3 linked regions of the Homo sapiens genome follow. The protein of the gene in region 1 interacts with the protein of each later gene in a pairwise test. Each region holds a gene or a part of one and is shown in the gene's direction. Other genes may lie near its edges. The genes, in order: GNE, NBPF19 and NID2.

What was found.
Region 2: the proteins of GNE (region 1) and NBPF19 interact in a two-hybrid assay, tested with the Homo sapiens proteins (one large-scale study listed by BioGRID).
Region 3: the proteins of GNE (region 1) and NID2 interact in a two-hybrid assay, tested with the Homo sapiens proteins (one large-scale study listed by BioGRID).

What each region holds. Positions count from the first base shown.
Region 1 is NC_000009.12:36,244,803-36,248,455, reverse strand, and holds part of GNE (bifunctional UDP-N-acetylglucosamine 2-epimerase/N-acetylmannosamine kinase), read left to right. Parts: intron 1-1,973; coding exon 1,974-2,425; intron 2,426-3,653. UniProt on the Homo sapiens protein: Bifunctional enzyme that possesses both UDP-N-acetylglucosamine 2-epimerase and N-acetylmannosamine kinase activities, and serves as the initiator of the biosynthetic pathway leading to the production of N-acetylneuraminic acid (NeuAc), a critical precursor in the synthesis of sialic acids.
Region 2 is NC_000001.11:149,498,925-149,502,577, forward strand, and holds part of NBPF19 (NBPF family member NBPF19), read left to right. Parts: intron 1-148; coding exon 149-321; intron 322-1,030; coding exon 1,031-1,082; intron 1,083-1,732; coding exon 1,733-1,905; intron 1,906-2,619; coding exon 2,620-2,728; intron 2,729-3,361; coding exon 3,362-3,534; intron 3,535-3,653.
Region 3 is NC_000014.9:52,059,014-52,062,666, reverse strand, and holds part of NID2 (nidogen-2 precursor), read left to right. Parts: intron 1-2,310; coding exon 2,311-2,543; intron 2,544-3,653.

The sequences.
Region 1 (3,653 bases):
GTAGTCCTAGCTACTCGGGAGGCTGAGGCAGGAGAATCACTTGAACCCGGGAGGCGGAGGTTGCAATGAGCTGAGATCACACCACTGCACTCCAGCCTGGGCAACAAGAGTGAGACTCCGTCTCAAAAAAAAAAAAAGCAAAGGTTGAATAATCTGAGAGAACAAGGCGTATTACATACATCTTGATGTATGTAATAAAAAGTCATTTAGTGCACCCTTGTGGCATGAATATATTAATGCAGTCTCCAAAGAGGATCACAAATACAATACTGTATCTGAAAGAACCTTGCGTTAAAATAAAATTGTCCTTTTCAGACTATTCTTTAAAAACAAGGTGGGAATTCGCTACTAGGAAATACTTAAAGAGTAGAGAAGAAACTTAATGGATAGCTCAGGGATCCACAGATTTTTTTTTTTTTTTTTTTTTTTGAGACGGAGTTTTGCTCTTGTTGCCCAGGCTGGAGTGCAGTGGCGTGATCTCGGCTCACTGCAACTTCCACCTCCCGGGTTCAAGTGATTCTCCTGCCTTAGCCTTCCGAGTAGCTGGGATTACAGGCATGCGCCACCATGCCCGGCTAATTTTGTATTTTTAGTAGAGACGGGGTTTCTCCATGTTGGTCAGGCTGGTCTCAAACTCCCAACCTCAGGTGATCCACCTGCCTCCGCCTCCCAAAGTGCTGGGATTACAGGTGTGAGCCACTGCGTCCGTCCAGATTTTTTTTTAATATAAAATGAATTCTGGCTATTTAGGAGCATCCTCTCAGTAGAACAGAAATTTTAGCTAGAGCCTGAGATGAAAGTTTGAGTGGGTTCTTTTACTGCTCTGAGAAAGCTTTGACAGGAAGACTAGTGGAAGAGAGGCTCTCAGGGAAATGGTAGTAGGTTTTTTATCTGCCTACCACAGTTACCAAGGGTGGAAGAATAGTGTTTATCTGATGAGACCGTTAAATAGGAAATTTGACTAGTACTTAATGAAAATGCATGTTTAAGGTACATTCTAACACAAGAAATTGGTTGCTTCTTGGGAGAAGAATTGGATGACTGGGAGACAAAAGTGAGAGACTTTTCACCATGAAATGTTTTCTTAAAGAAAAAAGGTTTGGCCAGGCACGGTGGCTCACACCTGTAATCCCAGCACTTTGGGAGGACGAGGCGGGCGGATCACGAGGTCAAGAGATTGAGACCATCCTGGCCAACATGGTGAAACCCTGTCTCTACTAAAAATACAAAAATTAGCTGGGCGTGATGGCACACGCCTGTAGTCCCAGCTACTCGGGAGGCTGAGGCAGGAGAATCGCTTGAACCTGGGAGGTGGAGGTTGCAGTGAGTCAAGATCGCACCACTGCACCCCAGCCTGGGCGACAGAGCGAGACTCTGTCTCAAAAAAATAAAAAAAAGGGTAAAAAACATTTTCCCCTAAGTGTATATAAAAAGTGCTGACCACTGTTAAAAGTTTAGTCTCTTTCTTCCTAATAAAAAAATTCTCTGGCCGGGTGCAGTCGCTCACGCGTGTAATCCCAGCACTTTGGTAGGTCAAGGTGGGTGGATCACCTGAGGTCAGGAGTTCAAGACCAGCCTGGCCAACATGGCAAAACCCCATCTGTACTAAAAATAGAAAAATTAGCTGGGTGTGGTGGTACATGCCTGTAATCCCAGCTACGCAGGAGGCTGAGGCAGGAGAATCGCTTGAACCCGGGAGGCAGAAGTTGCAGTGAGCCTAGATCGCGCTACTGCACTCCAGCCTGGGCAACAGAGCAAGACTTCATCTCAAAAAAAAAAAAAAAAAAAAAAAAAAGAATCTTAATCAGGCTGTTTACACTTATGGTCTATGCTTTTTATGTTTGTAAGTTATACTTCAATTTATTTATTTTAATGTTTCTCACTTCAGAGTTGGTGTTAGATTGCTTTTCTTGCATGTTACGGCTCTGTGTTTAAGAACATGTTCTTATATCTTTATTTCTCCCCGGCTTTAGAAATACATATCGAATGATTGAACAAGATGACTTTGACATTAACACCAGGCTACACACAATTGTGAGGGGAGAAGATGAGGCAGCCATGGTGGAGTCAGTAGGCCTGGCCCTAGTGAAGCTGCCAGATGTCCTTAATCGCCTGAAGCCTGATATCATGATTGTTCATGGAGACAGGTTTGATGCCCTGGCTCTGGCCACATCTGCTGCCTTGATGAACATCCGAATCCTTCACATTGAAGGTGGGGAAGTCAGTGGGACCATTGATGACTCTATCAGACATGCCATAACAAAACTGGCTCATTATCATGTGTGCTGCACCCGCAGTGCAGAGCAGCACCTGATATCCATGTGTGAGGACCATGATCGCATCCTTTTGGCAGGCTGCCCTTCCTATGACAAACTTCTCTCAGCCAAGAACAAAGACTACATGAGCATCATTCGCATGTGGCTAGGTACGTATCTCAGACTTTAGTCAGTCTAATGGCTGTTTTTGTCAGAAAATGTTCCGTCTATTTCAATCCTTTTGGAAACTATTATGGATAGAATACTCTGTTAGCAATGAGAAGGCCAAGGTTTTAGTTCATAGACCTTGCCCTGTGGTATGACTTTACCTCTCTGAGGTTTACCTTTTCTGTAAAATAGGCTTAGTGGATTGAGTTTTAAAAATCTCTGCTATATTTATAGAATGGAATGCTTTTAATCCATTAAATATATTAGTTATAAGAACGATCCTAATATGTCAAAAGGGGGAGCTATAAAATTATAAGTGTAATATGCCATTTCATTTTATTTTATTTATTTTATTTTTTGAGATGGAGTCTTGCTCTGTTGCCTAGGCTGGAGTGCAGTGGTGTGATCTTGGCTCACTGCATCCTCTGCCTCCCAGGTTCAAGTGATGCTCCTGCCTCAGCCTCCCAAGTATGTGGGATTGCAAGCGTGGACCACCATGACCGGCTAATTTTTCTATTTTTAATTTCACCACGTTGGCCAGGCTGGTCTCGAACTCCTGACCTCAAGTGATCCGCCCACCTTGGGCTCCCAAAGTGCTGGGATTACAGGTGTGAGCCACTGCACCCAGCTGTAATCTGCCATTTTACTAAAAACTGTAATAATGGAATGGTTAGGAAGTATGTACACCAAGTCATTTATTATATTTATTTCTGGTGTGGGATTATGGGTGTTTTTATGTTTGATTTTCTGAATTTTTTTTTTGTTTTTTGAGACAGAGTCTTGCTCTGTCATCCAGGTTGGAGTGCAGTGGCACAATCTCGGCTCACTGCAACCTCCACCTCCCAGGTTCAAGCGATTCTCCTGCCTCAACCTCCCGAGTGGCTGGGATTACTATGCCTGGCTAATTTCATATTTTTAGTAAAGACAGGGTTTTTCCATGTTGGCCAGGCTGGTCTCGAACTCCTGACCTCAGGTGATCCGCCCACCTCAGCCTCCCAAAGTGCTGGGATTACAAGCGTGAGCCACCGTGCCTGGCCTGATTTTCTGAAATTTTTTACTACATTGGCAAAATGGTCATTTTTTTTTTTTTTTTGAGATGGAGTCTTACTCTGTTGCCTAGCCTGTAGTGCAGTGGCTCAGTCTCGGCTCACTGCAACCTCCACTTCCCGGGTTCAAGCGATTCTCCTGCCTCAGCCTCCTGAGTAGCTGGGGTTACAGGCGCACACCACC
Region 2 (3,653 bases), on another chromosome or scaffold:
CAACATAAAGGCAATAATTCATTACCTCATTAATGGATCTGTCCTTTTTCTTTTTAAACAGTTCCTTATGTTAGCCATGAAATCTAGCTGGGGCTGTGTGGTTTCTGATTCCCCCTGGCTTATTCTTTACTTTTTCCTACTTTTCCAGGCTCAGCAGGGAGCTGCTGGATGAGAAAGAGCCTGAAGTCTTGCAGGACTCACTGGATAGATGTTATTCGATTCCTTCAGGTTATCTTGAACTGCCTGACTTAGGCCAGCCCTACAGCAGTGCTGTTTACTCATTGGAGGAACAGTACCTTGGCTTGGCTCTTGACGTGGACAGTGAGTACCTTACTATGAAGGTGATAAGCCTCCACCTGGTCTTCCAGATAGGGGTGATATTCCTGTTCCAAGTGGCCCTTACTGACCCGAGAGATGTCATTGCCGCAGGCAGGACCTGTGGGCGCATATAGGTTGTAATGAAACTGTAGTCTCAGTTGGAAGCCTAGACATGAAATGGGTCAGTGAGCAAGGCTCTATTCCTAGTCTCCAGCCATGCCTGTGGCAACCTGAGCCCGCTCTCAGCACATTGGACCCAGGCAGATGCAAAAAATTCACAGAACTATGATTTGGACTCAAGGGTTTGTAGATTTCCTCCTTCATTCTAATTTCAGTGTCTAAAATTCTTGCATCCATGAACGAGCTGGGCATTTGATGAGACAGGGCTGAATACTGCAGTTTTCCTCCTAGAAATCATCTGGGGCATTTTCTTTGAACTGATGGGAACAATAAGGCATAACTGTTTGCACAAACTTGGGATAAGTGATTTTGGGATAACGATCTACCAGAATGGGGATATTTCACCCTTGGTTCTGAGATGCAAACCAAAGAATATCATGACCAGCTTTCAGGCCTCCTGAAGTATATCTCTCACATTGTCCTGTTCTCATGCTGAGGAGCCTGAGATCCCTGTGTGGGGATTAGACAGTGGACTGTTATGGGTGTAGGTGAATTGGCTTATTTTGTCTGTCCCTGTCTGAATGTATTGCAGGAATTAAAAAGGACCAAGAAGAGGAAGAAGACCAAGACCCACCATGCCCCAGGTAACTGAGCAATTGTGAACAGCTACTTCTGTGTTGACATCTGGAGACTCCTGGTTCAGGGAAAACAGAGCGGGCTGACATTATCGATTACATCTTTTCAAGCAAGCCTGAATTATTCCTACTAACATTGCTGTTGGTTTTCATTGCAGTAGATATTTAGGTTTCCATTTCTTCCTCCCCTTATCATTTACTAACCTACTGTAGGTGGACCAGACTTCAAAAACTGTATTCTCATGGCGACTGCATGGAAACTTGAGCACATTTTATGGAAAATTATTGAGCACAGTCTTTTCATGATCACTGTATGCTGTGTGTCCTGAGGGCACTAACTCAGAGTGTCCTGTTACTCCCTCATCAGTGTGTCACCTGGACAATTCACTGAGCTCGTTCTCTCTCTCTCTCTCTGTGTGTGTGTGTGTGTGTGTGTGCGTGTGTGTGTGTGTGTGTGTGTGTCCATCTGTCTTTCTCTTTCATTCTTTTCCATTTGGCCCTGTTCTGTCCCAACATGAAGGCAATAATTTGTTACCTCATTAATGGATCTATCCTTTTACTTTCTTAACCACTTCCCTATGCTACCCATGAAACCTAGTTGGGGCTCTGTTGTGTGTGATTTCCCCTGGCTTATTCTTTACTTTTTCCTCCTTTTCCAGGCTCAGCAGGGAGCTGGTGGAGGTAGTAGAGCCTGAAGTCTTGCAGGACTCACTGGATAGATGTTATTCAACTCCTTCCAGTTGTCTTGAACAGCCTGACTCCTGCCAGCCCTATGGAAGTTCCTTTTATGCATTGGAGGAAAAACATGTTGGCTTTTCTCTTGACGTGGGAGGTGAGTACCTTTCTATGAAGGTGATAAGCATCCACTGAGTCTTCCATATAAAGATCATATTCCTGCTCCAAGTGGCCATTACTGAGCTGAGAGATGTCGTTGCCGCAGTGAGGACCTATAGGCACATGTAGGTTGAATGAAACTCTAGTTCTACCTGGAAGCCCAGACAAGGGATGGGTCAGTGAGCAAGACTCTCTTCCTAGTCTCAGGCCATACCTGTGGCGCCCTGATCCTATTCTCATGACATTGGACCTGGGCAGATGTGACAAATTCAGAGAACTATGATTTTGACTCAAGGGTTTGTAGATTTCCTTTTTCACTCTAATTTCAGTGTCTAAAGTCCTCACAACCATGAACAATCTGAGTATTTGATGAGACAGGGCTAAATATTGCAGTTTTTCTCCTAGAAATCATTTGAGGGTATTTGCTTTAAATTGATTGGAAAAATATGGCATAACTGTTTGCACAAACTTGGGACAAATGATATTGGGATAACGATCTACTAGAATAGGGACATTTTACCCACAGTTTCTGGGAGAAAAACCGAGGAATTTCTATCATGACCAGCCTTCAGGCCTCCTGAAATATATCTCTCACAGTGTCCTATTCTTATGCTGAGGAGCCTGAGGTCCCTGTGTGAGGATTAGACAGTGGATTGTTATGTGTGTAGGGGAATCAGCTTAATGTGTCTGTCCATGTCTGAATTTATTGCAGAAATTGAAAAGAAGGGGAAGGGGAAGAAAAGAAGGGGAAGAAGATCAAAGAAGGAAAGAAGAAGGGGAAGAAAAGAAGGGGAAGAAGATCAAAACCCACCATGCCCCAGGTGACTTTCAGCAATTGTGGATGCTTAATTCTGTGTTAACACCTGGAGGCAACAGATTCAGGGAAACCAGAGTGTGTTTGATGTCATGTTTTCAACGAAGGCTGAATTACTCCTACTGTCATTGCTGTTGGTTTTCATTGCAGTAGATGTTTAGGTTTCCATTTCTTCCTCCCCTTATCATTTCCTAACGTACCATAGGTTGACCATACTTCAAAAGCTGTACTCTCATGGCCACTGCATCGAATTTTGAGCATATTTTATGGAAAACTATTGAGCTCACTCTTTTCATGATCACAGTTTGCTGTGTGTCATGAGGGCACTAACTCAGAGTGTCCTTTTACTCCCTTACCAGTATGTCACCTGGCCAATTCACTAGGTCACTTTCTCTCTGTCTCTGTCTCTGTCTCTCTCTCTGTCTCTGTCTCTCTCTCTCTCTCTCTCTGTCTTTCTCTTTCATTGTTTTCTACCTGGCCCTGTTCTATCCCAACATAAAGGCAATAATTTGTTACCTCATTAATGGATCTGTCCTTTTTCTTTTCAAACTCTTCCTTAACGTTAGCCATGAAATCTAGCTGGGGCTGTGCGGTTTCTGATTCCCCCTGGCTTATTCTTTACTTTTTCCCACTTTTCCAGGCTCAGCAGGGAGCTGCTGGATGAGAAAGGGCCTGAAGTCTTGCAGGACTCACTGGATAGATGTTATTCAACTCCTTCAGGTTGTCTTGAACTGACTGACTCATGCCAGCCCTACAGAAGTGCCTTTTACATATTGGAGCAACAGTGTGTTGGCTTGGCTGTTGACATGGATGGTGAGTACCTTTCTATGAAGGTGATAAGGATCCACTGAGTCTTCTGGTTAGGGTCATATTCCTACTGCAAGTGGCCCTTACTGAGCTGAGAGATGTCATTGCCACAGGGAGGACCTATA
Region 3 (3,653 bases), on another chromosome or scaffold:
TTAGAACCAGGATTCTCTCCTATCTCACATTTATTATGGCAGATCAATGCCAGGAGCTTTGAAAGCTTAGCTTTTTGAAATGGGGTTTTTTCTCCTTCCTCTAGTACTTTTCTTTCCCTAGTTGATTTTTCTTTATTCTGACTAATGTATAACTCTGAAGTTATTGAGTCCACATTAGTTGATGATGTCGACTATCTTATGGATAGACATGAGGCAGAACAGCCTTTGTTTATATTTGGCAGTAGTTGTGGCTTCCTAGTATTGAGAAGCTCTAAAAACATTTCTTGCTTTTTGTTTTTGGAAAAGTCAAGCTTTGCTGATGAACAATCAACAACTGGAACAATAACAAATAAACTAGGCACCTGTTACTTTGTGAATTGAATGAATGAAAAAAGCAAAGCAAGATGTTGTTTTTTCTGGGTTAGAGAACTAAAAGAACTGCTGATTGTATTTTATTTTCTCTTGAAAAGTGTGTTACATCTATATTTCTTTATCCTATTAGCAAAACCTCAAAACCTTACTTTGAAATTAAACATTGAAAGGAAAAATTAACATTAGAAAAGAGCTAGAACAACTGTGGGAGTAGACTTAGAACAAAGGGAAGAGCCCATTCCTTCCTTGCTGTTTCCTTCAGTGAAATGTGATGTTCTTCTCTGTGCCCGAGTTTGTCTGTCTAGCAGAATGGAAAGGTAATGATACTTACCAGTAAATAATATTTCTAAGAGTCACATTATTTGTGAAGTAAGTTGTGTTTTAAAAATACCTTCCCAGTTCCTTACTAAATTGTAAAAGTAGTGTGATTTAGTGAGAGAGAGACAGTTTCAGAAGCCTAAACATAACAGCTTTTTGAGAATCAAGCACTGTTCACAGATCTTTAGGAGGAGCGGTCGCTGAATGAAGGTAAAGGCAAAAATCTCATCTTGTTGAAAATATGAGGGTAAACAGAATGTTAAGGAGTGATCCTATAAGGACCTGGGTGTTGAATTGGCAGCTGATTCAGGCTCCTGGTCCCTCTCTGGTCTGTGTTGGCTCCTGCAGTGTTTATAACATTCACCAGCTGCCTCTGTGACACCTCCCAACCTCCACCCTGAGATCCTGGACACACACCCCGGCTCTTGGCCTCTACCACCTTCTCCAGTGACTCTCCTACCATTTCAACCATGGCTGTTTCCCAGTCCTACACCGTGAGACTCTCCTGGGCAAAGCCTGTCTTTTGCTCCTTCACATCCTCAGCATCAAGCATAACGTCTGGTGCTTAAGTAGACACTTGGCTGTTTGAATTAGTGTATGAATGAATAAATGAATGGTGTTTACAAACATATAAACAACTAACCAAGCATAATGAGGTGAATGCTCACTAGAGATGCCCATAAAGGTGTTACAGAGGTTCAGAGAACAGAAATTATTCTATAGGGAATCACAAACACCTCTGAGTGGCAGCATTTGAAGGTTAGGAGGCTTTCTAGGCACAGGGAACCACGAACAAAGTGTAGAAGCATCCAAGGACATGGTACAAATGGGGACTATTAAATAGTCTGACAAAGATGCAGTGGAACTGAGCCTGGGAGGGACGTATGCAGCCAGGTTACAACTCACCTTGAATGCCATGTTGAGGAGGGGTTAGGGTGTCCTAGGGTGTGGGCTCTAGAGCTGGCTGGCCCACCACCACATACTTGCCACCTGACCTGAGGAAGACCTGTTAGCCCCTGTGTCTTTTTCTCATCTGTGAAATGAGGATAACCCTGATGCTCGTATGAAAGGGTAGATGGAAGAGGAAAGAGAGTGATGCTGTGAGACAGTAAGGAGGCCTTTTGACCAACTAGTGCCTAACACAGTGCCTGCCCATAGTGGTCATTTAATAAATGGATGAATGAATGAATGAATGAATGATGCAAATGAGAGATGCTGAGTGCCTAGGGTTATAAACTAGGGCAGTGACTGCAGGATGGACAAGTTAATTTTGCTGATTGCTCTTAGCTCTGAAAGAGTTTACATGAGAGAAGTTTGAAACCTTACAAAGTATATATTTTTTAACCTATGTTTTACCAATGCGTATTTCAACTATTAATCTAAATTGACAAATGGTATTTGCAATAATAAATAATATTGCTTATGAAATTATATTGTTAACTTGAAGAGGAAATTTTAAAGAAGGTTATGTTTAAAAACAATTTGGAGGAATCCTGAAAAAGGGGAAGTTCTTTGCACGTTATGATGCTTTGCTTGCATTCTGTTTCTTTCTTCTTTTATTTGTTTTTTACAGGATGTTTCTCTCTCTCTCTCTCTCTTTTTTTTTTTTTTTCCTCACAGCTGAACACTTTCCAGGCAGTTTTGGCATCTGATGGGTCTGATAGCTACGCCCTCTTTCTTTATCCTGCCAACGGCCTGCAGTTCCTTGGAACCCGCCCCAAAGAGTCTTACAATGTCCAGCTTCAGCTTCCAGCTCGGGTGGGCTTCTGCCGAGGGGAGGCTGATGATCTGAAGTCAGAAGGACCATATTTCAGCTTGACTAGCACTGAACAGTCTGTGAAAAATCTCTATCAGTAAGTAACATTGAGCTGAAGCCCTTTCCTATTTGAATATAAGGACTTTTAGGAAGTACCTGAACACAAGTGACCATAAGACCATTACATAATATATTGGTGGCTTCTAAGTAAGGCATCAAGTCAAAACCAAGGAACTAGATTCAACCCTGGAAGGATCAAGTTCACCAAAACATAAAAGGTCCTTTATTTTTCCTGCTCTATTGGGTATAGATACTGGAAACAGAACAGTATGTGTGTGTATTTGTAGAGCCACTGAGGCTTGCTATGAAAAACATTGCTCTTGGAACCACATAAAAATATCCAGTCATAAACTGCCCAGTTTGAGGTTTTCCAGATTAATCATTTCACAGGAGGAAACATTGTGATTTAGTCTTTTGGACAGATACTGTTAAACATTAAATTGAGCAATGTAATTTGCAGGAAAAATAACTAAGATTTATAGGTTTCCAGAAGTCTGAGGATGTCTCTCTGGCTTCATTACCTAAAATGAATTGAACCCATTCCTTAGACTCATCAGTGTCTGCCCATAATGGGCATTTAATAAATAGATGGGTGAATGAATGAATGATCCAGAGGGCTTACTTAGCTAGTGCAATAATAAGCTCTTCTGCATTTTGCCAGTACAGATAGTGCCAGTAGGATATTTATTGACTTCAGGGTTTTTTGGGGGGTGTGTGAGGGGAGGTAGGGGTGCCCTCGCTTTTATTCGTTTCCTGAATATAGAAGCCAGATAGAATACATTGGTTACTTCCTGGCCTCCTTTAACTGCTTCTTGACTTCATTAAATCAATCCTGGGTAGGTATAGAAACACCTTACACTTTTAGCATGCCATCCACTCTGCTCGGCTACCAGAAAGAGACCACTATAGCCAGGTTTGCTTACTCAGAGCTGACATTTATTGAAAACTTACTACTTGCCAAGCATCATGCTAAACACTTTCCAGATGTTATCTTAATTAAAACTCACAAGAATTGTAGGTTAGTACTACTATTTTCCCAGTTTTACAGAGGAGCTTAGGGAAGTTAAGTAAATTGCCTATGATCTCAAAGTTAAGTGGCAAAGCCAAAATCCAAGCTCAAGTCTGGAGTGCTGAACTACTTATTTTA